Homo sapiens: one gene and its partners. The protein of the gene in region 1 purifies or fractionates together with the protein of each later gene. This does not show direct contact. Each region holds a gene or a part of one and is shown in the gene's direction. Other genes may lie near its edges.

Region 1 (4,069 bases):
CCCAGACAATTTTTGTATTTTTAGTAGAGACAGGGTTTCACCATGTTGGCCAGGCTGGTCTTGAATGCCTGACCTCAAGTGATCCACCCACCTTGGCCTTCCAAACTGCTGGGATTACAGGTGTGAACCACTGTGCCCGGCCAAGTTTGGTATTTTATTGTTGTTTGGATTTGCATTTTCCTGCTTATTACCCAAGTTGAGATCTTTTCCAGATTATTGGACTTTTCAAGTTTCCTAATTATGAATTGTCTGTTCCTGGTTTTTGCCTATTTTTCCAGTTGATTATTGGTCTTTTGATTGTGAATTTTTGTTTATTGTGAATTTGTGAGACTTAAAACATTTTTGCATATTAATTCTTTTTTTTTTTTTTCCAGACAGAGTCTCACTGTCACCCAGGCTGGAGTGCAATGTGGGGATCTCAGTTCAGTGCAACCTCCACCTCCTGGGCTCAAGCGATCCACCTGCCTTGGCCTCCCAAAGTACTGGGATTACAGGCATAAGCCACCATGCCTGGCCACTGTATATTACTTTTTAATTTTACAAGTTGCAAATGTTTTCTCACGATCTGTCACTTTCTTTCTTTCCTTCCTTCTTCTCTTCTTTTCTTTGTCTTTTTAAAATTTGAGACAGGGCCTCACTCTGTCACCCAGGCTGGAGTGCAGTGGCACGATCATGGCTCAGTGCAGCCTTGAACTCCCCAGGCTCAGGTGATCTTGCCACCTCAGCCTCCAGAGTAGCTGGGAGAACTACAGGTGCATGCCACCATACCCAGCTAATTTTTTTTTTTTTTTTTTTGTGTGTGTGTGTGTGTGTGTGGAGATGGGGTCTTCCTATGTAGCCCAGGCTGGTCTTGAACTCCTGGGCTCAAGTGATCCACCCAACTTGGTCTCCCAAAGTGCTGGGATTATAGGCGTGATCCACTGTGCCTGGCCCTGTCATTTCTTTTCTCAGAGAGGATAACAATTTATTTGTCCTACAGAAAGTTTTAAATGTTGAAGGAGATTGGCCTGGAAATATGCTTTTGGGGAGCAACACGGTCTGAGCCAGACATCCAGATACAGCCCATTCTTCTGGCCAGTCTTGCCCTTTGCTCCTGATTCTCCAAGCTGTACCCAGAGCTTTCTGGTTCAGCATGTACCTGGAGGCTGCTTTTGACCATGTTTTGAGAGTGGCATGGCTTTATCTAATGGGATGAACCTGGCTAAAGAGATTAGCAAAATGTCTTGTGGATCCCACTTTTAATCTGCAGCGTTCAGGCTGCCCCTTCTTGGCTGGGAAGGGCGCTGAAGAAACAACGCCCAGGACCAGGACTATCCCCTGCTCAAGCTGTGATTCCGAGACCCCTGCCACCACTACTGCATTCACGGGGATCCCAGGCTAGTGGGACTCGACATGGGTAGCCCCCAGGGCAGCTCCCTACAGCTTGGGCCATCTGCACTTTTCCCAAGGCCCTAAGTCTCCGCCTCTGGGCTCGTTAAGGTTTGGGGTGGGAGCTGTGCTGTGGGAAGCAACCCGGACTACACTTGGCAAGCATGGCGCTACTGAAAGTCAAGTTTGACCAGAAGAAGCGGGTCAAGTTGGCCCAAGGGCTCTGGCTCATGAACTGGTTCTCCGTGTTGGCTGGCATCATCATCTTCAGCCTAGGACTGTTCCTGAAGATTGAACTCCGAAAGAGGAGCGATGTGATGAATAATTCTGAGAGCCATTTTGTGCCCAACTCATTGATAGGGATGGGGGTGCTATCCTGTGTCTTCAACTCGCTGGCTGGGAAGATCTGCTACGACGCCCTGGACCCAGCCAAGTATGCCAGATGGAAGCCCTGGCTGAAGCCGTACCTGGCTATCTGTGTTCTCTTCAACATCATCCTCTTCCTTGTGGCTCTCTGCTGCTTTCTGCTTCGGGGCTCGCTGGAGAACACCCTGGGCCAAGGGCTCAAGAACGGCATGAAGTACTACCGGGACACAGACACCCCTGGCAGGTGTTTCATGAAGAAGACCATCGACATGCTGCAGATCGAGTTCAAATGCTGCGGCAACAACGGTTTTCGGGACTGGTTTGAGATTCAGTGGATCAGCAATCGCTACCTGGACTTTTCCTCCAAAGAAGTCAAAGAGTGAGTGGCTTCCAGTCCTGGGGTCAGAGCTATGAATATATTGGGGACACTGAGGCTCAGGCCTCTGACCAGCCCCTCTCCCCGCACCCAGTGCCTTTTCCTCTCCATCGGGTGCACAACTTATTGCTGCGTATGTGAGGGTGTATCAGGTGGAACCATATGAAATTGCTAATATTCTACCTCTTTGACCCATAAAAAATGACAACTTCATAGGGTTCAACCTAACATTGGCTAAGGTGGTAGGAAGGTATCAATTTATATAAGCTGTTTGGATAGGAGCCCCTTGGGATGAAGAGCCAGGCAGCAATGTGTGTCCACTTTATACAGAGGGATGGAAGTCATTCATAGATCACAAACACTGAGGTACTATTTGGCTATTTGTCCCATTCATTCAAAGTAGATGGATTCAGTCCCAGAAGTTTAAATTTCCTAGTTAGTTCCCTTGTTTTCCAACCTTTCAACCCTGAGCATCCATTCCCAAGATGTTTGTCTGGATATGTTGGAAAGAGCATAGGAAGGGGAAGTCATGAGATCTAGGGTGAAGTTTTGGTTCTGTTGTTCAAGGTCTTGTGACCTTGGGCAGGTCACTAGTCACTCTGCGCTTTGGCTTGCCCATCTTTTAAATGAGCACTGGAATAGAATAGGTAATTTTGGAAGTCACCTCCTAGCCCTGCCTGGTAGCTGGCATGCAGCAGGTACTCATTAAATGCTTGCTGGTGTTTACTTAGCGAGTCATGATAGTGCAATGTGATAAAGCATTTCTAAAGTATTCTTGGCATATGTAAAAGTAAAATGCTGCGATGGGCTGTGGGAGGTGCTGGTGAGAGAGAGACTCTCGACCACTGTGTCGGAGGGAACAGCCTGTGCACTGGCTCCAGCGGGCTGCTCTTCCCAACACACCCACCAACCTGGGGCTCGAGTGACTTTTCAGGGAAAGGGCAGCCTGCCTTGAGGCAGCCGCTTTCCCTCACCTCTTCTTTCTGTCTGACTCGACCCTACCTGGCTGAGGTTAGGGGTTCAGTTATTCCTAAGGGTGGTTTTTTTTTCTTCCCAGTGAGGCTGGCAAGTCCAAAGGGAACTTGAACTCAGGGCATTGGCACCAGCAGCAGGACATGTTTGAAGCCCAAAACAACATTAATGACGCCCAAATAGCTAGCTTATATCTGCCCTGCAGATGGAAGGGACGTCCAAGTGAAGGTCACTTCTTGGGATTTTATTTTCTTGTGGATGGAGATTACTGCTGCAAATCCCCAGTCAGGAGAGGATTGTAAAGGGCTGTGCCCTTCCCAGGTGACAGGTCTGCAGGGGCAGCACAAGATGCCACGATTTACATAAATCTCCCGAGGAGGGCATGAAGCCAGGGGGACAAGCAGAATTCTGGGGAGTGGGAGAGGCCGATGGTAGAACCAGCCTCTGTGAGCAGAGGCTCACAGAGAAGGGGCTTTTCATCTTTTCCTCTATCATTTCCCTTGATTGTCTCCTGCATAGAGTCAGTTCTTGGACAGATGTATTCAAATCTCTCGGTAACTCCAAATCCCCTTTTGTATCAGAGTGAAGGAATTATCTAGGTCACTCCACTCTCAATGGTCAATGGATCCAAAATTTCAGGCAAATATTTAGCTGAATCAAAACTCCTTCAATGTCCCATACCAACTTGTTGGTGGGAAATTTTCCTAACTCCACTGACTTGGAAAAATTCTTCTATTACACGCACAAAAAATACAGCAGTAATATTAAAAGAAGCCAAAATAGGAAAACAAATTCAAGCTAGCTTCTCACCCATAACTTGATTAATGCCTTTAGTTTTTCTACATTTCAGTTTCAGTCTAGTCTTGTTAACATTTACATAATCATACAGTGTAATGATAGTATAAAGACAATTTAGGGCCGGGTGCGGTAGCTCACACCTGTAATCCCAGCACTTTGGGAGGCCGAGGCGGGCGGATCACCTGAGTT
Region 2 (4,243 bases), on another chromosome or scaffold:
TTCCACAAAACCAGTCCCTGGTGCCAGCATGGTTGGGGACACCTGGTTAACAGATGTGAGACCCCTTTGCCTTGTCTTGGAATAATGTGCAGATATGCATTGTGTGAATGACATCTGATGGCGCCATCTTGCCCTGTACATCATTTTAGGGACAGCTCCAGTATTTCATGAAAATTAAAATTTCTTCTAGTGACGAACAAAATGATACTCAGAAGCAATTTTGTGAAGAACAGAACACTGGAATATTACACGATGAGATTCTGATTCATGAAGAAAAGCAGATAGAAGTGGTTGAAAAAATGAATTCTGAGGTATTTTCTTTAGTTATTTTCAAATGTTTTTATATGTGTGTATATTTTAAAGAACTGTATTTTGGAAATATAAAGGATTTTTAAGTCATATATATGTGTGTATATATTCTATATATCCTTTGTCATATATCTATATACGTACGTATAGGATAAAGCCATGTTCTTAATTCACCTTCATTTGCCTGCAACAGTTGAGTAGTGACCTGCACAATGGCCTCAATCCAAAGGAGAAGTATTTGATGTTTTTCATAAGAATTGATGATCTTTCCACATCAGAAATAAGTTTTGCTACTGAAAACAGATTTTCTCGTTTTTGGACATTAGTTTTTTAAAAAATGTTAATAGAGAAGTCAATTGATTATTTTTACTGATAAGAAAGTAGGAAATGTATAGCTGGGTCAGAGGCCACATTGTGGATACCATTATCCTTACTTTTGCAGAGAGGAACAGTTTGCTCCAAGTAGTTTCTCATTTCAGTGTAAAGAGGTTTGAAAACAATGACATGCCATGATACACATTTAGTAATAATTTATTGATAAGTATTTTGTTTCTGGAGAAATAGTTCAGTATATTTCCCCTATTTCACCATTACTACTGTTTCAAACATTATAAAGAGGAAATAAAAGTTACCGCAATGGCAAATAATCTCATGATTTCTAAGAAGATCTCTATAAGTTGTATCTTATTTACCATTCATATTTTGAAACAAAAGGTTTCTTTTGTATTTATATATTTACACCACAGAAGTAAGTGTGGTTTTGTGGAGGATCACTAGAAGTAGCATCAGCAGACCTGGGGAAAATCCTGCATCTGTGTATATTTTTTGACCTCTCCTTTTAAGAATCGCGATCTTAAATGAGTTCAGTATTATATGTAGAAGAGCAATGCCTAGATACAGATGTGTACAGTGTAGAAGGGTACAGTGCTTAGATTTGACAGTTATAAATAAATGTAATTCTTATAACTGAGTATAGAAATATTAGAAATGTAGAATATCGGTAAAACGTTCTTCAGTAAAAGAAACTTAAAGAACTTTGAGAAATTGCTTCTGTCCAAATATATGCATAGCTAAGGCTCTTAGGATGGTGTGGTTGATAGGTTAGATATCAGAGTGTAAACCTAATCTTAAAAATGTAGTCAAATTATTAATCTTATATTTTATGCCTCTGGGTTTTTTGTAACTCAGAAAAAGGCTTTTTTAATTCTGGGATTCTTAAAAATCCTCTAGTGATTTATTTTTCATCGTCTTTAAATAAATATTTAAACTTTTAGGAATTTAGGAGCAGATTCCTAAAAGTTTAAATATTTATTTAAAGACGATGAAAAATAAATCACTGGAGGAATTTACACTCTTATTAGGTTTGAAGTTTTGTCCAATTTTTTTCCAGTTAAATATCCACTATGGGGATTCTTTCATTATACAAATACATGTTATTTTTGAATTTCAGAAGAAATCATGATATGTCAATCTATTGAGTGCTAACTAAAAGTTCTCTTTGTTTACTTAGCTTTCTCTTAGTTGTAAGAAAGAAAAAGACGTCTTGCATGAAAATAGTACGTTGCGGGAAGAAATTGCCATGCTAAGACTGGAGCTAGACACAATGAAACATCAGAGCCAGCTAAGAGAAAAGAAATATTTGGAGGATATTGAAAGTGTGAAAAAAAAGAATGATAATCTTTTAAAGGCTCTACAATTGAATGAGCTCACCATGGATGATGATACCGCCGTGCTCGTCATTGACAACGGCTCTGGCATGTGCAAGGCCGGCTTTGCGGGCGACGATGCCCCCCGGGCTGTCTTCCCTTCCATCGTGGGGCGCCCCAGGCAGCAGGGCATGATGGGGGGCATGCATCAGAAAGAGTCCTATGTGGGCAAGGAGGCCCAGAGCAAGAGAGGCATCCTGACCCTGAAGTACCCCATGGAACACGGCATCATCACCAACTGGGATGACATGGAGAAGATCTGGCACCACACCTTCTACAACGAGCTGCGTGTGGCTCCCGAGGAGCACCCCATCCTGCTGACCGAGGCCCCCCTGAACCCCAAGGCCAACCGCGAGAAGATGACCCAGATCATGTTTGAGACCTTCAACACCCCAGCCATGTACGTGGCCATCCAGGCCGTGCCGTCCCTGTACACCTCTGGCCGTACTACTGGCATCGTGATGGACTCTGGTGACGGGGTCACCCACACTGTGCCCATCTATGAGGGGAATGCCCTCCCCCATGCCACCCTGCGCCTAGACCTGGCTGGGCGGGAACTGCCTGACTACCTCATGAAGATCCTCACCGAGCGTGGCTATAGGTTCACCACCATGGCCGAGCGGGAAATCGTGCGTGACATCAAAGAGAAGCTGTGCTATGTTGCCCTGGACTTCGAGCAGGAGATGGCCACGGCGGCCTCCAGCTCCTCCCTAGAGAAGAGCTACGAGCTGCCCGATGGCCAGGTCATCACCATCGGCAACGAGCGGTTCCGCTGCCCCGAGGCGCTCTTCCAGCCTTGCTTCCTGGGCATGGAATCCTGTGGCATCCATGAAACTACCTTCAACTCCATCATGAAGTCTGATGTGGACATCCGCAAAGACCTGTACACCAACACAGTGCTGTCTGGCGGCACCACCATGTACCCTGGCATGGCCCACAGAATGCAGAAGGAGATCGCTGCCCTGGCGCCTAGCATGATGAAGATCAGGATCATTGCTCCTCCCAAGCGCAAGTACTCCGTGTGGGTCGGTGGCTCCATCCTGGCCTCGCTGTCCACCTTCCAGCAGATGTGGATCAGCAAGCAGGAGTATGATGAGTCAGGCCCCTCCATTGTCCACCGCAAATGCTTCTAGGTGGACTCTGACTTAGTTGCGTTACACCCTTTCTTGACAAAACCAAACTTCTCAGAAAACAACATGAGATTGGCATGGCTTTATTTGTTTTCTTGTTTCATTTTTTGTTTTGTTTTTTATTGGCTTGACTCAGGATTTAAAAACCGGAATGGTGAAGGTGACAGCAGTCGGTTGGAGGAAGCTTCCTCCAAAGTTCTACAATGTTGCCAAGGACTTTGATTGTACATTGTTCTTCTTTTCAATAGTCATTCCAAATATTGTGAGACGCATTGTTTCAGGAAGCCCCTTGCCCTGCTAAAAGCCATCCCACTTCTCTCTAAGGAGAATGGCCCAGTCCTCTCCCTAGTTCACACAGGGGAGGTGATAGCATTGCTTTTGTGCAAATTACATAATGCAAAATTTTTTGAATCTTCGCCTTAATACTTTTTAATTTTGTTTTATTTTGAATGATCAGCCTTCGTGGCCCCCCTCTTTTGTACCCCAACTTGGGGTGTATGAAGGCTTTTGGTCTCCCTGAGAGTGGCTGGAGGCAGCCAGGGCTTACCTGTACTCTGACTTGAGGAGAGTTGGATAAAAGTGCACACCTTAAAAAAAATTGAGGAAGCACAGTATTTCAGTACAGTGGACAGCTTAGCATGTTGACAACTGAGAATAAAATGCTCAGTTCTGAACTGGACAATGTAAGACACAACGAGGAAACACTGGAAATGGAAATTCAATTACGTCATTGTAGACTGGCTGCTGCTCTACATGATTGTGACCAAAGTCAGATAGCTGAAAGAGACTTCTTTCCAGAGAACAAGACATGAACAGGTTTATTTACAGAAGACAATGAATTCTCATTTATCTCACCTAAAAGAGAACAGATTCTTTCTCAACAAGTCTAATGTAGACAGTAAAATCAACAGGCTAAAAATTAAGCTCCACGAAACAAGATAAAACTCTGAGAGAAAAGACGGGGCAGGCCGCCATCTTTCCCGTTCAGGCAACTTAGTCATTCCAGCCTGCGGGCTTTGGAGAGTACAAACCGACGAGGGACAGAAGAGATCCCACAGCACAGCATAGCTGCTTTACCAAATCATGGCCAGACTGCTT
Region 3 (3,500 bases), on another chromosome or scaffold:
ACAAAACTCTTCTTGCTTTTGCGAAGGTTAGTTGAATACATGACCATGAGAACACATTGCCAAGTCCCAGTCCCCCAGAGCCTTGGAAGGAGTCCATGCAGTTGAGGAACCCTGAAAACTTCTGGTCCTTCTTTAGCAACTATCCTTTGGTCCACTTGGACCCACTTGCTTGGGAATATAAACTAATCGTTCCAGTTTATTAAACGTGGACCTCATAGAGGTTGTATGTGTAGTGCTTTGAAGATTAGAATCATATATTGAAGTCAAAGTCATTTTTAGAAAGAAGTATTTCACTTTTATTTGACAGAAGATCTTAAATGAGATCTGAGCTGATTTGATATTTGTCACTGCCGATATTCTTGTAAATTACTAACTAGAAGAAAATAAAGCAATTGCTATTATTATTCAAATGAGTGAGATGTAAGTGCCCGATTGGCAGGGCAAGAAGTAGTTTTGCCAGCTAAAGGCATATGATATTGGAGAGGAGACTGAAGATTTTGTTTTAGCTATCTAAAAGGAGATAAACTGGATATATAATACCAATAATTATATCTTAATCATCACGTTATGGTTTACAAAACACTTTGATATGTGCTTAATCTTCACACTAATTATTTAGTAAATATTGACTGAGTACGTGCTCTGTGCTGGGTGCTGGGAATACAGCGGTGAACTAAACGTACATCGTCCCTGTTTTCATGGAGTTTCCAGTCTAGTAGTACAGAGAAATATAGACATTAAAAAGTAACACATACATTTATAATTACATATTCAGATTCAAGTCTAAGAAAAACCCAGGATGAGAGATTATCAAGGGGGATTGGGTGGTTGGGGAGGTGAAGATGTAACATTTAAACAACTGTGAAATAGGAAGAACAGATGGTATTCTCATTTTAGGGCATGGTTGATTGACTACTTAATTCAACAAACATTGAATTACAACAAACATTCCTGAATTCCTTAACTCAACAAACCTTTGTGAAGTCTGGAGAAGGTCAGATAGCTTCAGGAATCGTGTGGAGTTTCACGTTATGAAGTCCAGGAAAATAATACATCTGCCTTTAGAGCTTACCACCTGGAAGGAGGGGAGACAGACATACTATACTTATAAACAGAGGCATGAAGTAAATGCTGTTGGGCCACAAGAAAGGAAGCAATTAATTCTGCCTGGGACTCCCTCGAGCTGGGCTTGGGGAAGAATTGCTTTCATTAGATGGAGCAGGAAGAAGGGGTGATCTGGGCAGAGCAGACACCCTGAGCAGTGGTTGAGATCTGAATCTGGTTGTACATGGGGAACAGTGTGAGAGTAGTGGGGAGGAGTAGCCAGAGATAAGGAGAAAAAAAAATTCTGCAAGTCCAGATTGTAAGTCTTTAAATGGAAACTGAGACTGAGAAAGGTTAAATGACTTAGGCAGGTGGAGCTGGGACTGCAACTTACGTTCGTTGTCTGAATTTTATCCTTTTCTAAGGCAAGGATAATTTGAATATATATAGCATCTGAATACATGCCAAGCAAACAGGAATTCCTGTGGCTTCTGGACTGAGTCTGACCAAAGTGTGGGAGGAGTGATGGGGAGGAAGGGCACTATTCAGAGCTGTGGTCTGAAGGAACCGTCCTGCCATTCTGCAAGTTGCTGTCGTTCTGAGCCTGTTTCCCCATCTGTAAAATGGGGTTAATGACACTTCCCTTGTGGGTCTTGGTGAGCTGAAATAAAACCACATATGTAAAGCAGATATAAAGTATGTACTCATTATGTGCTTTAAAAAAGTTCCCTGTGGTCAGATATTTTATTTGAAATGTTTGTTTAAAAAGGTGTACAGTACTCTGAATATGATGTGCAAAGTTCTGTGCTAGAGGCTTAGAGGAAAAACAAAATAAATTTAAGGTTACTATACTGACCCTTTCAGGTGGTTGGAGAGGAAGCACTTTTGCTTAGTTCAAGCTGCGAAGAAATCATGAAAGATATTATATCAGTAAGTGCCCGAATGAAGCAGGCAGGTAAAAACTGGGAAAATTGAGAGGCAAAAATCATGTCTATTAGTTTTAATGTCTGGGGGAAAAAAGAGGTATAGAAAAGCTAGAACTGACCTGGACCTCCACAGATATGAAGGTAAATAGGGAGAGAGGGCCTGTTTTCCTATAGGATGAGGTGGATCTGGCCAAAGAATTGCTATTGAAGAGCAGTTAAAGGCTGGAACTTGGGGCAAGCCATATTTAAATCTTAAATGTCAGACAAAGGAGAGGAGTCCTGCTGGAGATGACAGAGAAATTAAAAATATATATATATGTTTAAGAGGATAGTTAACAATAGCAACTGAGCGTGTGCTGCCTCAGGCTCTATGTTTGGGACTAGCTGGGAATTAGCAGAGAGTTAAGTAGGAACAAATTCATATAGTTCATTGCAGCACTAAAAGGGAATTCTGGTTTTATATAGCATCCACTATGGTGGTCGGACAAAATGAAGGGCTAACGAAGGGATTTTTATTGCTGTATGAAACATCAACTAGATGATACTAGGAGAAGGGAGGCTAGTGAAGTCCAATGAAAGTATCTTGCTTAATCAGTAGGAACACCTGTATGCGGGGAAAGGACACCATTGGGCTTAGATTCGAAAGATCTGGGTTCAAGAAGTTGCTCTGCTACTAACTAGCCAAGTGAATTTATATCAGTTATGTAACCTCTTTGAACTGTAACTTCCGCAATCGAATATAAGAACAAAATAAGATAATATATGGGAAATGCATTGTAAATGAAATATTTCACAGCTATACATTTTATTAGTAGACATGTTGCTGAAAAATAAAAATCAAATTTTATGTACTGCTAGAGGTGCTTGTTTGATTAAAGAAACCCAACTATGATATATTTTCTAAAGCAGGAAATTTTGGAAAGATACACTTGTAATGATTTTGGATAAGGATAAAGGGGGCATAGCTGAGATGTTAGAAATAACAAAGCAACCAAGGGTAGATGATAGATCCCAAATGGTAGATGACTGAGAGGGAGAAAGATCTTTGAAGTTACAAACTCGAGGAAATTAAATAATCATGGTACTGTAAATATGATGGAGAAATTAAGAGACAGGTTAGGTTTTAGAAAAAGTTTGGGCCTCCTAATACCTTAACTTGTAGGTCAGTATTTTTCAAACTATGGATGATGAAATCTGTTTAACGGGCTTCCATATATATTAAGAAAGAAGTAAGAGAGGAAGGAAAAAGGGGAGGAAGGAGGGAGAGAAGGAGGGAAGAAGTGGAAAAAGAGAGTGTGTTTTATATAAGGGTAAGTACTGCTTTGAGTACTTCAATTTCTCTCTCTCTCTCTCTCTGTCTCTGTCTCTCTCTCTCTCTCTCTGTGTAATATGTAACTTGGTTGTAATGGAAAATACATTCTTTTGGCTCAGGTCAAAAGAGTTTGGAAGCTACTGTCATCGAAGGAAGAATGTGGGATCAAAGAGAGGGTGAAGCAGTCTGTAGTGGAGTAAGAGTACGTCAGAAGGTAT
Region 4 (3,500 bases), on another chromosome or scaffold:
GTAAATGCTCCTGTCAGTTTCTGCTGCAGTAAAATAGCTCTTCCTTTATTCACAGAAAGGGAATAAGTTACATGGACTCCTTAGATTTATTATTTAAAGCATGATGGACCATTATGCTGATTCTGTTTTTAATGTTTATTTCACTTTGGAATTAGTCTTGTTCCCCGGGAAATCATTTCCTGGCTTCTAAGTTGACAGTTCTCTGTTATTTGTTGTGCCTGAAAAGTTTGGTACAACCAGGCTAACAGAGGCAGTTAGTGCAGATGATGATGTCAAAAATCTCTTTATAGGCTGAGCATGGTGGCTCACACCTGGAATCCCAGCATTTTGGGAGGCCAAGGTGGGATTGCTTGAGTCCAGGAGTTCGAGACCAGCCTGGGCAACATGGTCTCTACAAAAAAAAAAAAAAAAAATTAGCTGGGCATGGTGGTGTCCATCTGTGGTCCCATCTACTTGGGAGGCTGAGATGGGAGGATCACTTGAGCCCAGGAGGTCAAGGCTGCCGTGAGCTGTGACCACATCAGTGCACTCCAGGCTGGATGACAGAGTGAGACCCTGTCTCAAAAAAAAAATGAAAAGGTCTTTATAGTCATTTTTCATAACCCAACCTACCCCTAAAATCAGGGTGAATACCCAGAGAACACCTAAAGAAAGGAGTATGCAGTTGGGCCGGGCGCGGTTGCTCACACCTGTAATCCCAGCACTTTGGGAGGCTTAGGCGGGTGGATCACGAGGTCAGGAGATCGAGACCATCCTGTCTAACACTGTGAAACCCCATCTCTACTAAAAAATAATACAAAAAATTAGCTGGGCTTGGTGGTGGGCGCCTGTAGTTCCAGCTACTCAGGAGGCGGAGGCAGGAGAGTCGCTTGAATCCGGGAGTTGCAGGTTGTAGTGAGCCGAGATCGTGCCACTGCACTCCAGTCTGGGTGATGGAGCGAGATTCCGTCTCAAGAAAAAAATAAAAAAAAAGAAAGGAGTATACAGTCATGGAACTGTCACACAGAGCCAGTTCCATTTGCCAAGTACAAGATATCGAATCAATGTATTTTTGTGGCTTGGCATGGTGGTTCACACCTGTAATCCCAGCACTTTGGGAGGCTGAGGCTGGCGGGTCATTTGAGACCAGGAATTCGAGACCAGCCTGGCCAACAAGGAAAAACCCCATCTCTACTAAAAACACAAAAATTAGGCAGGCGTGATGACATGCACCTGTAATCCCAGCTGCTTGGGAGGCTGAGGCAGGAGAATCACTTGAACCCAGGAGGCGGAAGTTGCAGTGAGCCGAGATCACGCCACTGCACTCCAGCCTGGGTGACAGAGTGAGACTCGGCCTCAAAAATAAAAATAAAAATGACAAAAAAAAAGGTATTTTTGTGATCAATTCTTTCATTTGGATTTAGGTGAGCGACCTGTGAGAGTTTATGCCGATGGAATATTTGACTTATTTCACTCTGGTCACGCCCGAGCTCTGATGCAAGCGAAGAACCTTTTCCCTAATACGTACCTCATTGTGGGAGGTAAGAAAACATTTGGTGACTTCAGGTGCTGTGCAGAAAAAGATGATAGTACAGTCTGTCTTTCTCAGCTGAGTACACTGGCTCTTGTTTCCATTTTTAAATGAAGGATGTAGTACAGCCTCTCTAACACACATGAAGTATATGGGTACCAGCAAACTAAACCTGGAGAGAGGAGCTTCAAGCTCCTCGACTGTGCCATCTGGCATTTATTCACTGCTTGTAGCTGAGTTTCTGTGGTCACAGGAGCAGCCGTGACTTCCGTTGTCCACTTTAAAACATTTGCTTTAGATTTCAGTTTATCATTTTGAATTAACTGGAGTACAAAAGTCTGCCAAGGAAATGTTAGGTGGTCCAGTCCAGTGTGAATAAAACAGGAAAACATGTTTAAGGACTTAATTGATGCAGACACGCACAGCAGGTTTATTTCAGAGTCAAAGATCTTGGTCACCTGTTGTACTGTCCCTTCTCCAAAGTATGAACATACTGTTTAGTGAGTGTTGCTCCTGAAGGTATACGCTGCATTAGGAAAAGCGTTATCACCCAGGTTCAACCACCTTTAGAAGACTTTTTTCCAGTTGGGGAAGATGGTTGCAGTCCTAAGCAGTGGGAGAAGATGGGAGAGGTCGGTGGCTGAGGAGGTGCTAAGCAAAGAGGACTCCAACACACAATTTATGATGTGGTGAACCAGTTTGCAGTGATGAGCTCACACACAACTTCAAAGGCTTCACGGTGATGAACGAGAATGAGCGCTATGACGCAGTCCAGCACTGCCGCTACGTGGATGAGGTGGTGAGGAATGCGCCCTGGACGCTGACACCCGAGTTCCTGGCCGAACACCGGGTAAGAAACTGGACACATATTCCCATTCCTTGTTTCAGAATCCCCTCAACTCTCAAAGCTGCTGGCACGTAGGCTGGTTTTCCACTAGCCGTGTTTTACTTCTACCTCTTATGTAAGTTTCGTAGGAGATGACAGTGATATTACTAGTGATAACAGTCACCCCTGACGTTTATATGGGGCTGGATGGTTTGCAAGCACTTTTACATCCATTCTATTCCATTTTCTGCCCACAGCAATCCTGTGGTGTGTTTGTCATTTCCGCTTTACATATGAGTAACAAGGGCTAGAGAAACCAAATAACCTGCTCCAAGTTACACCATTGGCAGGGCTGGGAACTGAACTCGCCACAAGTTACACCACTGGCAGGGCTGGGAACTGAACTCGCCACAAGTTACACCACTGGCAGGGCTGGGAACTGAACTCGCCACAAGTTACACCACTGGCAGGGCTGGGAACTGAACTCGCCACAAATTACACCACTGGCAGGGCTGGGAACTGAACTCGCCACAAGTTACACCACTGGCAGGGCTGGGAACTGAACTCACCAGTTACGAGACCTTCCCCCCACACCATAGGCACATCTACCCTTAGAACATGCCAGTCTCCTGAGAATATCCATAGCCCCAGGTGAACTCTGAAGACGGTCACATTACCAGGAAATAAGACGGATTAACATAGACTTTTCTTGGCTTAAGTTTCATTTCAGGGCTTTGATCTTATGCTAGAAATTGGGTGGAATCAGAAATCAAGGATATTTCTCACTGTTTCTCAGTAAGTTATTATCAACCCCTTACCTCCTTTTAATTCTCCCACATTAAAGTAACAGATTTCAGCCAGGTGCAGTGGCTCACGCCTGTAATCCAAGCACTTTGGGAGGCCAAGGTGGGAGGATCGCTTGAGCCCAGGAGCTCAAGACCAGCCTGGGCAACATACCGAGACCCTGTCTCTACTTTAAAAAAAAAAAAGCCACAGGTTTCCTGCAAAAGGTGGGTACAAAAGATGAGAAGGATTGATTAGGCCAGGTTAGAGGCCCCCAAGCCTGAGGAAATAGCAAGCATGTTGTCAGTTCTCTACAGGGGCGCGTGGAATGTTGTAGGTAAATTGTTCAGTGAGGCAGAAAGAATGAAGGCAGCCAAAGTG
Region 5 (3,500 bases), on another chromosome or scaffold:
GGATTACAGGCCTGAGCCACCGTGCGCAACCTATGATTTTGGTGGTGGTGTTTTTTGTTTTTCTGTTTTTTAAATATTCTTGAGTATATTTGTAAGCTTTAGATGACCTGTTTTAAGTTATTTAATCTATCAACACCATTATATCTGTTATTACGGCCACTGTTTCTGTTGATTACATTTTTTTTCCTGCCCATAGGGACTTTTTTTTTCATGCATAGTAATTTCTTATTGCTTGACATTGTGAATTTTGCTTTCTTGGGTACCGAACATCACTGTGTTCTTTCAAAGTCTATTGGGCATTATTCTGGTCACAGAAAACTGAGGATCAGTTTGCTCCTCTGATACTAGCTTTTATCTACATATAACTATATACCTTGTGTTCAGTTGCCTTATTCAGGGGCTCATTTAGTTAACTACTAAAGTTATAGTGGTTGACTTCTGATGGTAACTCGCCAGCACCCTGGCATGCGTTCTGTCCACTGTGGGAAGGGGAACATGCAGATCTCCCAGCCCTGAGTGGTCCACAATCTAGTCTCTCCTTCCCTGGGTGGCTTCTTCTCAGGCACCTAGAGTCAGTCTCAGCAGACACTGGACATGTCTTCTGCAAGGATCCAGAGTCCTCCAGGCAGCTGCTTCTCCCAGTCTCTGCCCTGCACTTGGCCTCTGGGAGTTCCTGCCTGTGGTTCTCAACAGAGACTACAGAGCTCTACAGGGTCCTCTGCCCCTGCTGTAGCTGGAGGCTGTCCTTACGCAGTGAGCTGAGGCCACAGCTAGTCTCACTGCATGTGCTTGGCGGCGGGGACAGGAGTGATTCATTCATCAGGTAGAGGAGGAACCCTTTACTCTGGGAAAATCTGTGCCTGGGTTGGGGAAGGACAAATGAGCCCTGTGTGAATACTGACTACTCCCTGGAGCCCACAGTCTGGTGGAGCAGGTGACAGCAGGGACCTAAATAACTATCAGGAAGCATGAGGTCCCACCACTGTCACCTCCCCCACCTCCAGAGTGGCTGTGCTGGCTCCAGAGATGTCATCCCTCCATATTTGACTGACAGAGGGAGGCTGTGCAGTCCCAAGGCTCCAGGTCATGGTAGTTTGGCCAGGATAATATGGTTTGCTTAAAATCAACATTGAGGGTAATGATCGTACTAATCAGAGCATGTGTTTAAAGTTCTGTGTTTTAAGCACTTTCCATACATATTAACACTTTCAGTTCACACAACAACCTATGCAGGAACTGTGATTATCCTGGGCAGTTTTAAGGATGTGGGTGACTCAGAGAGGAAAGAAGAGGTTACTCGGGTTAATTTTTGACGAGAAATATTAGCAGGTTTTATGCTCAAACTTGGTGTAAAGCAAGGAGCCTGAATCACAGGTGGGTGAGTCACAAGACAGGGAAACCCCGCCAATGGCTCATGTCCGGGAGGAGGCAGGGTCCCTAGAATTCAATGGGACAAGAACTGAAATAAGCCAAACCCCTGACCTCCCTTCTTCTTGTTTTCCTTCTCTCTCTTAACCATGCCCATGGACACCCCCATGAGCCCATTTCTGTGGCCCAACACAGCTGTGCATCTCTGGCCACACGCCCATTCTCCCTCAATCAGAGAGGCCCACGGACGGCACAGCCTCGTCCTGCACAGCAGAAAGAGTGAATGGTGATGAATGGATCTATATTATTTCAACTCTCCTACATTTTGTAATCATATTACAATATTAATTCAGCAGTACCTCTCTTGTTTTTACTCCCCTCCCCCATTACACTGGATTCCTGTCTGTCTGGGATTCTGTCTGTGTGCACTCTTTCCTCTATGTCCACTACTGTCCCTGCCACCGATGGCATTTGTCACCTCTGCCTGGGCAGCCCCTCCAGACTCTTTGCAAGTTCATGGACTTTGGGGTTAATGATGGCTGTGCCTCAGCTCCTGTGAATGGAAACTGTGCTAAGGAAAGGAAGGGCCGTGCCATGTTCCCGATACTCCACGGCTCCTTGCATATGCGGTCGCCAGGCGCCTACATGCCTTCCATGAATGAATGAATGAGTAACGTGGATTCTAGGAAGCTGCACTAACCCAGACGTTGTGTCCTCAGCCTGCTCATAGAGTGTGTTAAACGTGAGAGGTGGGGAGTGTGGCAGGCAGGCTGAGGACAGAACAGAGGATCTGAATAGAGTACGGAGGATCACCCAAGTCCAGAGTCACCAAGGCCATTGTCAAGTTTTCCCCGGGGACATCCCTCATCAGATCCACCCATTAAAGATCATTGTTCACCCAGTGGAGAGTGGACTAGGTGGGTGCACTCAGGTGTGGCCTGGACAGCATTCGGGATGGGTCCTAGTGGTTAGGGTGAGGGTCAGGTTGCATTATCGTGAAGGAGGCAAGTGGCAGCTGAGGCAGATCTGAGGGAAATGATGATAACGCAGGCCGGTGATGCAATGGGTTTGGTAAGAAGAGGAAAGAGGTTTGTGGTGGATTCTAGTGTTTCTAATCTGAGACTTGGGTGAGGTCATTACCAAATAAGAAAGAGTAAATGGGCATAAATGGCTTTAAGAATTAGGAACCTGAATGTGCTATTGGAGACAGTATGGGCACGTCATTGCTCATAGACCTGCAGTACACAAAATGCTAAAAGATTTCAATCTGAATAGAGATGAAATGAAATGGAAACATGGATTTTTTTTTTTTTTTTTGAGACAGTTTCACTGTTGCTGCCCAGGCTGGAGTGCAATGGCGCAATCTCGGCTCACTGCAACCTCTGCCTCCTGGGTTCAAGCGATTCTCCTGCCTCAGCCTCCTGAACAGCTGGGATTACAGGCGCTTGCCACCACACCCAGCTAATTTTTGTATTTTTAGTAGAGACCGGGTTTCACCATGTTGGCCAGGCCAGTCTCAAACTACTGACCTCAGGAGATCCACCGCCTTGGCCTCCCAAAGTGCTGGGATTACAGGCATGAGCCACCTTGCCTGGCTGGGAACATGGATCTTAAGGAAAGAAGGAAGATCATCAGGAATAGAAATATGAATGCACATATAAAGAATGATTATTTCCTCTTAATTTCTTGAAAATATTCACTATCAAGTAATATAACACTTTGTAGGGTTTGTAACATATGAACATGCCTGAGACAACTATAGCAGAAAGAATGAGTAGTGGAGATGAATCAATCTGTATTATTTCAAGTCTCCTACATTTTATAATATTACCATATTAATTCTGCCATACAACTCAGTAATGAAAAGGAATGGAGTACTGATGCATATGAAAATATGACCGAATTTCAAAATAATTATGCTGAGTTAAAGAAACCAGACAGAAAAGCATATATAGTATCTGATTCCATCTATGATATTTATAGCCAGAAATGGTTTAATTAAAAAAGAAGAAGGATCTTAAATCAACGAGCTAAGTTTACAAATGTAGGAATTAGAAAAAGAATGAACCAAACCTAGAGTTAGCATTATAAAGGAAATAATTATTAGAAGAGAAATAAATAAAACAGAGAAT
Region 6 (3,500 bases), on another chromosome or scaffold:
ATGCAGATGTTCAAGCTTGTTGAGGAACAAGGCATTCTCAAATATGGAAGAAAGAGAAAAGGAAGAATTCTTATACTTTCACTAGCAGGCCCTTTCTGAGAAGGGTTAATACTGAGCCACAAGGCCCCCACCAGTGCATGAAAGGAGGTGGAGGAGCCAGAGGAATAAAAATCTCAAACCAAATTTTTCAAAAAATGCTTACAAATCTTTGCAAACTTCATAAGCTTTTCATTCTCCCCCAAAATCCTGTTAAGTAGGGCAGGTATTATCTGCTCTATTTTTATGTAAGAAGATACTGAAACAGAAAGATTAAATGACCTGCCCAAGTTCATAAAATAAATGAATGGTGTAACAGTGATGAAGACCCTGGTGTCCTGATTACTGCCAGCTAGCTCAGTGCTCTTGACACTGAACCACATTGCTTTTCCTCTTTTTCCCTTGGCATAGAGCCTATAGGCCCAGAAGTTATGTGTGCACATAACCAAATAGGGAATGCACAAGCAACTGCAGCATTATCTCAGACAGTTATTAATACATCATCATTATTCCTGGAGCTGAGCATTTGGTTTCCATATTCACTCAGTCCTTGACCTGTCTATTGAGTTTATCTGCAACTGGGAGAATAGGGTCAGTGAGTCTTTTAATGATGTGAACGCCTGTTTGCTAGGAACTCAAGGAAGCTTGTGTGGCCTGGACGCTTAATACTAGCCATCAGAATCATGCCCAAGTTTGTACTTCTGTTGCTTTTCAAAATGAGAGTTCAAGAGTTTTGCTCTGTAAAATTATCCTACAGACCAGTATAAAAAAATAAAAAAGTGTGCTAACACTTGTTTCATCTCCATTTAAAGAAATGTTTGTTACTTGAGCTAATTCCAAAGACAGCAATTTGGGAGCAGGAAAAAGAGGACAAAAATTAGGAATTGTAGGAAACTTGAGAATTCTGTAGAGTGTATATAAACCAAGAAGGAGGATAAAGCCTATCCATTTAGGAGATATTATTTAAATTCATAATTACTGATTTAGATATCTAATGAATCCTTATTATAAGTTTTATCTATATTTAGAAAATAACATGTGATTATTAAGCAGCAGATTTTTTTTTAAAGCTTCGTTCTTCCTCAGTAAGAAATAACACTACACAGATCTAGGCACTGTTTTTCTTCTTAAACCAGTACTCTTGATGCTGCTTAAATAAGATTCTTGCCATAATTAATTATAATATTAGATGAATGTATATTTAAATTTAATAACACCAGCTAAATATTAAAACTGGTGTTTAAGACAGATGAACTGCCAGGTACAGCGGCTCACGCCTGTGAACCCAGCACTTTGGGAACATGAGGTGGGCAGATCGTTTGAACCCAGGAGTTTGAAACCAACCTGGGCAACATGGTGAAACCCCATCTCTACAAAAACTACAAAACTTAGCCGGGCATGGTGGTGCATGCCCGTAGTCCCAGCTACTCAGAAGGCTGAGGTGGGAAGATTACTTGAGCCCAGGAGGTCGAGGCTGCAGTGAGCCATGACTGCACCACTGCACTCCAGCCTGGGTGACAGAATGAGACCTTGTCTCAAATTTAAAAAATAAATAAAGAAAAGAAAAATGACCTAAACTAATTAATAAAATAATTAGCCAAGATAATATACTTTATTGTAAACAGGAAGCCCACAAACACAATTTTTTTCTGCTCTCTAATTATGTGGAATCAATTGCAGAGACAACCTTGAGACAGACTGGTGAGTGCACTAACAACTTTCTTGGAGATGGGAACGTTGGTAGGTATAAAAGGAAGAAGTTTCATCTCCGACTTAGGATTTCAGCATATCTTAGATTGCTCTGTACTTTCCTTTTCCTGAATGTCATCTATTGTGAATATCATCTTTCTTTAATTTGCTTTTACTTTGAATGGAGAATTCAATTGAGAGACAATATAAAATGTAAAAAATTATATAAATTACAAATTAGGATAAGTTAAAGTTCTTGGAATAAAATTATTTTGCTTATGTTAAGCATAGGTAGCATTTTGAACTTTTATTTTTGAAAAGCACCCTCTGTAGGTTACTTGAGGTTGCTGTGGGTTCTTTTTTTTTTTCTGACTTGAATATATTTTTATATAGAGCCTTAACGTTATTTTATTATAGATTTTTTTAAAATAATGTTTTCTATTCTGTTTTATAGCACCCTAAAAAGAAAGAATAAAACAACAACAGGAAAAAAAGGAAAATATTTAAATTGTGACAAAAACCCACTGGGTAGGTATTTCAAGGGGGCACACTGTGGATTTGGGATATTTTAATATTTGATCTCTTAAAAATGAATATTTAGAAAAATATATAGCTAGTACATAGGCATTCCAAAATCATTTTAAGGGCTACTAAATTTTGTAAAATTATATTCAAATGTGTGTGCTTCCAGAAACTGTTTTGCATGCACTCCTTCGATTAGTGATTCGTTTTCATCCCTTTGGGTCTATTGTATAAATATCATCCAATTAACCTCATCACCGTTGAGTTCCCACAATAGACCTAGTGGGAAAGTACCTAACAGAATATAGGAAAAGGTAGTATTTGTTCAGTAAGCATTTGATCTTTTTATTTTAAGACACATTCTAGGTGTTCCATGTGTAGACATGTTGTGGAGGTAACAAGTAGGGTACTGTATAAATATTAGCACTTTAAATTTTGCAGTATGTTTTCAAATGTTGCTATTATGGAATTAAAACCTGAATCCAAAAACTAATAAGCTATTCAAGATTTCCTTCCTTCATGACAGCTGTTATATTGATATCAGTCAATTGTCATCAACTTAAATGCCATTGTTCCATGAAGAAAAAAATATAGAAGATCCTTACTTGAGAGGGTGTTCCTATCAATGCAAGTATAATGGGGTAAATGCCTGAAGAAACGTAACCTTGTTCTCTCTTTCAAATTCTGGGGTGCAGTCTAATTCTGGCCCAGACCTCTACCGACAGAATCAAGAATCCAGTTTATGTAGCTTTCTCTTCTCAGTAATTTTTGTATCCATCAGGAGCAGACTTCAAACCCCAAGTCAATTTCATACTATTTGTCTATTGTTTGGAACTGTCCAAACCGGAAGCTAAAGTTGTCACACATTTGAGTGGCATTCCTGTTCTAGGCTTCCTCTCCTAGAATTGGGTCAGAACTGAACCAAATTACAGGACCATCTGCTAGTCCATTTACCCATGGCACTCAGCCATTTTCCTGGCACAACAAAAGACCTCAGAAAAACAAGACCTATTTTTCCCCTTATGCAAAATTAGTGTTATTTCTTCTGCTGTACTACATCAATTAATGAGCATAAATCAGAGAAGTTGAATGAGAAGGCCTTATAATTCAGAGAAATTTGCTATGAAGTTGATTTCAGTTTCAGGTTTAACTGTTTTCCCTCCTACTTTTCCTTTTATTTTCAGGTTCTCTTGGTTACAAACTCCTTCCCTTCTGGTGCTGCAAAAATGAGTGGGAAATCCCTGCTCTTAAAG
Region 7 (3,500 bases), on another chromosome or scaffold:
AACTGTAGGAGTCACACTTGTGTGGGTGAAGATACTGGTGGCAAGGTAGGTGTGGTGGTGGGTGGACATTCTCTTCTGGTTGCTTCAATTTTGTTCAGTGAGTAGGAAACAAGGTCATTGGCTGAGAATGAGGATGGGGGAGGAGGCTTTAGGGGTTGAGGAGAAAGAAGGAGTGAAACTGCCATCTACCAGAACTGGAGAGTGAAGGGCCTTGGGATGTACAGTATGACTCTGAGGTAGCAATAAGGACCCTCTTGAAGTCTGCATCATGCATTTGAAATGAGACAAGTTCGCATAATTGTGTTTTTGTCTGGCCATGTTCAGTTTCACAGGTGCAGTGTGGGTTAGGCAGAGTGAGGCTTAACTAGAGCTGTGGTTCTGCCAAGTAAATATATCGAAAGTGAGAGAAAAGATTGGGCCAGTGGCTCACGCCTGTAATCAAAGCACTTTGGGAGGCTGAGGCAGGAGGATCTCTTGAGGCCAGGAGTTCAAGACCAGTCTGGGTAACATAGCCAGACCTTGTCTCTAAAAAAGTAAAAATTTTAAAATTAGCCAGGTGTAGTGTGTGCACTTGTAGTCTCGGCTACTTGAGAGGCTGATGTGGGAGGATCTCTTGAGTCCAGGAATTTGAGGCTGCAGTGAGCTATGATTGTGCCACTGTACTCCAGCCTGGGTAATAGTGAGACCCCAACTCTTAAAAAAAAGTGAGAGAAGGGAAAAAAGAGACAGGATGCAAGGGAATGATTATTATAATCACTGACTGGAATTCACACTGGATGGATGAGGTGGTAAGGGAGAACATCAAAGAGGCAAAGAACAGTGAGGAGGCAACAGGATCAACAATTTGTTGGTCCTGGATGTGCAAGCGAATTATTTATTTATTTTTTTGAGACAGAGTCTTACTCTGTCACCCAGGCTGGAGTGCAAGGGCTTGATCTCAGCTCACTGCAAACTCTGCTTCCCGGGTTCAAGCGATTCTCCTCCCTCAGCCTCCCGAGTAGCTGGCATTACAGGCGCCCGCCACCACGCCCAGCTAATTTTTTCTTTTTTTTTTTTGCAGTTTTAGAAGAGATGGGGTTTCACCATGTTGGTCAGGCTGGTCTCGAGCTCCCGACCTCAGGTGATCCGCCCGCCTAGGCCTCCCAAAGTGCTGGGATTATAGGCGTGAGCCATCGCGCCCAGCCGTAGGCGAATAGAACCTATTCTCATCACACTCCCTCTTTGCAAAGCACAAAGAGTCAAAGATCAAAGGAGCCAAAGAAATAGTTCAACTCTCATTCTAAGGATAGGGAAAATCACATAGCAAGTTAGAGCCAGGACTGGAACCCAGGACCCTCCTGACCTAGTTTTCTCTCTGCCACATTTTGGATCCCTTTGGGAATCAGGGTTCACAGGCCCCTATCAACAAGGTCTCTTACTGCTGGGGATGGGGGTTCTCGTATGCACCATTCAAGCACATGGAAGTGTTCCTTCTAGGGTCAGGAAAGGATAAAGTTTCCCTTGTCTTTTAAATCTCCCTCTCCATGGTCTTCAGAAAGCACATCAGCTTTGACCTAACAAGCTAGCCCTTTTGTCCCTGGGTCTGGACAGAAATTCTTCTCCCTCATTCAGTATCACTACAATCCACTCTACTTACCTATTGGCATTGACATTCCACCTACCCCCGCCCCCAAAGCTCCCTGCGGGCAGTCTAGCAGAGCCGGAGAGAGCCAGTTGCCCAATTCATATCTATCACAGCACCCAGCATATAGTAAGAACCAGAGTCAGCTTTGAAGACTACAACCAGCTCATATCTATAAGGCTTACGAGTTGCTTTTCCTTCCATGCACTCATTCAGATCTGTTCACAGCCCTGACAAGTCATCATGATTCCCATTTCATAGAGAAAAAGACTAAGGCCGAGGAAGGGTAAATAACTTGCCCAGGGTCACACAGCTTAACAATCATAAAATCCACTGGCTCTAAATCCCATGTCTTTCTCATGCTACTGTTGTGAGATGTTCACCTAAGCTGTTCTAACCCCTTTTCACCAGACTGCAGACCCCACCCAGTCAAAGTGAGGCCCTTCCTCACCAGAAGGCACTCAAGACACAAGGGACTGTCAGTAAATGGCAAACTGAATCCCCTGGCCCACCTAACCCCAGACTGGCCACTCAATCCTTGTTGCCTACCCTCCCTCCTCTCACTAAGAGGCTTTTTCTGCTTCCAGGGGTGTACCAGGCAAGAAGTGTGGGACCATATTGCTGACTGCAGAAGAGCTTAGCAATTGTCGGGTCAGTAAGGGCCACATGCTAGACCCAGGAGCTCCCTTCTCTCCCCGTAAACCCTTTAATGGACTGTCTGAAGGCTATGGACAATTGGGGTGCCACCAGCCCAACTTCATCCATCCCTAGGACATTGCCACCATGCAGCTGTGTGCAAACAAGCTGGACAAGAAGGACTTCTTTGGGAAATCAGACCCCTTCCTTGTGTTCTACAGGAGCAATGAGGATGGCACGTGAGTCACTGCCATCAGGGCTGTTAGGCTGGGGTGGGCCATGTGCTTAACAAGTGGGGGAATCTCAGGAATCTCTGAGAGCATCTGGATTCAGTCCTACCCCGGGCACGAGATAAATTATACCAATTCTTCCCACTCCCCTCCAGGTTCACCATCTGCCACAAGACAGAGGTTGTGAAAAACACGCTGAATCCTGTGTGGCAGCCCTTCAGCATCCCTGTGCGGGCTCTGTGCAATGGAGACTATGACAGGTTGGCTCCAGCATAAGCTGGGGAGTAAGGAGCCAAGGACATGCCAGTGTGGTTCCTGGGCCCAAGAATGATAGTAGAAGTATCATAATAGCGTTGGAGGGTCCTGCTCAGTGAGACAGAGTTTGGGGCATGAGGTTGGGTGGATGGACAGGCAGATGGATAGCCACACAGATGGATAGGTGGACTATCCAGGGATGGATCGACTGATGGATGGAATGGTAGGTGGATGGGTAGATGAAAAGGCAGATGAACAAATGAATAAGCAGATACATGGATGGATCGTTGGATGGGTAAACTGGTGAATGGTTGGATATGTATGTGGATGGATATATGAGTGAATTGATGGGTGGGTAGAGGGGCAGATAAATGAATGGACAGCAGAAGAATGGATAATTGGACTGATGGGTGGGTTTGTGGATATACAGGTGATGGGTGATTAACGGATGAATGAGCTGATGGATGGGTGGGTGATAAATTGGTAAATGAGAGTTTGATGGATGACTGGGGAGGCAGGAGGATGAATAGAAAAGCAGGTGGAATACAAAAAGATAGGTAGAGTGACAAGTGGATTGATGGTTGGATAGATGAATAGATGGCAAATGGATGAACGGATGGATTTGTAGGTGAATTAGTTGATGGATGGGTATAAATTAGATGGATAGGCCAACCAAATGAATGAGTAAATGGGTAGTATAAAGACAGATGGTAGGGGCCGGGCGCGGTGGCTCACACATGTAATCCCAGCACTTTGGG

Evidence for each region.
Region 2: the proteins of PRPH2 (region 1) and POTEE purify together in Homo sapiens (affinity purification with mass spectrometry; one large-scale study listed by BioGRID and IntAct). This does not show direct contact.
Region 3: the proteins of PRPH2 (region 1) and NCAM1 purify together in Homo sapiens (affinity purification with mass spectrometry; one large-scale study listed by BioGRID and IntAct). This does not show direct contact.
Region 4: the proteins of PRPH2 (region 1) and PCYT1A purify together in Homo sapiens (affinity purification with mass spectrometry; one large-scale study listed by BioGRID and IntAct). This does not show direct contact.
Region 5: the proteins of PRPH2 (region 1) and TNFRSF10B purify together in Homo sapiens (affinity purification with mass spectrometry; one large-scale study listed by BioGRID and IntAct). This does not show direct contact.
Region 6: the proteins of PRPH2 (region 1) and RAB9B purify together in Homo sapiens (affinity purification with mass spectrometry; one large-scale study listed by BioGRID and IntAct). This does not show direct contact.
Region 7: the proteins of PRPH2 (region 1) and CPNE9 purify together in Homo sapiens (affinity purification with mass spectrometry; one large-scale study listed by BioGRID and IntAct). This does not show direct contact.

What each region holds. Positions count from the first base shown.
Region 1 is NC_000006.12:42,719,798-42,723,866, reverse strand, and holds the start of PRPH2 (peripherin-2), read left to right. Parts: upstream 1-1,269; 5' UTR 1,270-1,532; coding exon 1,533-2,113; intron 2,114-4,069.
Region 2 is NC_000002.12:131,261,536-131,265,778, forward strand, and holds the end of POTEE (POTE ankyrin domain family member E), read left to right. Parts: intron 1-190; coding exon 191-311; intron 312-1,819; coding exon 1,820-3,148; 3' UTR 3,149-3,743; downstream 3,744-4,243.
Region 3 is NC_000011.10:112,967,920-112,971,419, forward strand, and holds part of NCAM1 (neural cell adhesion molecule 1 isoform 2 precursor), read left to right. Parts: intron 1-3,500.
Region 4 is NC_000003.12:196,246,227-196,249,726, reverse strand, and holds part of PCYT1A (choline-phosphate cytidylyltransferase A), read left to right. Parts: intron 1-1,403; coding exon 1,404-1,520; intron 1,521-2,208; coding exon 2,209-2,360; intron 2,361-3,500. UniProt on the Homo sapiens protein: Catalyzes the key rate-limiting step in the CDP-choline pathway for phosphatidylcholine biosynthesis.
Region 5 is NC_000008.11:23,062,532-23,066,031, reverse strand, and holds part of TNFRSF10B (tumor necrosis factor receptor superfamily member 10B isoform 1 precursor), read left to right. Parts: intron 1-3,500. UniProt on the Homo sapiens protein: Receptor for the cytotoxic ligand TNFSF10/TRAIL. The adapter molecule FADD recruits caspase-8 to the activated receptor.
Region 6 is NC_000023.11:103,825,758-103,829,257, reverse strand, and holds part of RAB9B (ras-related protein Rab-9B), read left to right. Parts: intron 1-2,179; 5' UTR 2,180-2,253; intron 2,254-3,431; 5' UTR 3,432-3,473; coding exon 3,474-3,500. UniProt on the Homo sapiens protein: The small GTPases Rab are key regulators of intracellular membrane trafficking, from the formation of transport vesicles to their fusion with membranes.
Region 7 is NC_000003.12:9,710,333-9,713,832, forward strand, and holds part of CPNE9 (copine-9), read left to right. Parts: intron 1-2,208; coding exon 2,209-2,272; intron 2,273-2,392; coding exon 2,393-2,496; intron 2,497-2,642; coding exon 2,643-2,747; intron 2,748-3,500. UniProt on the Homo sapiens protein: Probable calcium-dependent phospholipid-binding protein that may play a role in calcium-mediated intracellular processes. Plays a role in dendrite formation by melanocytes.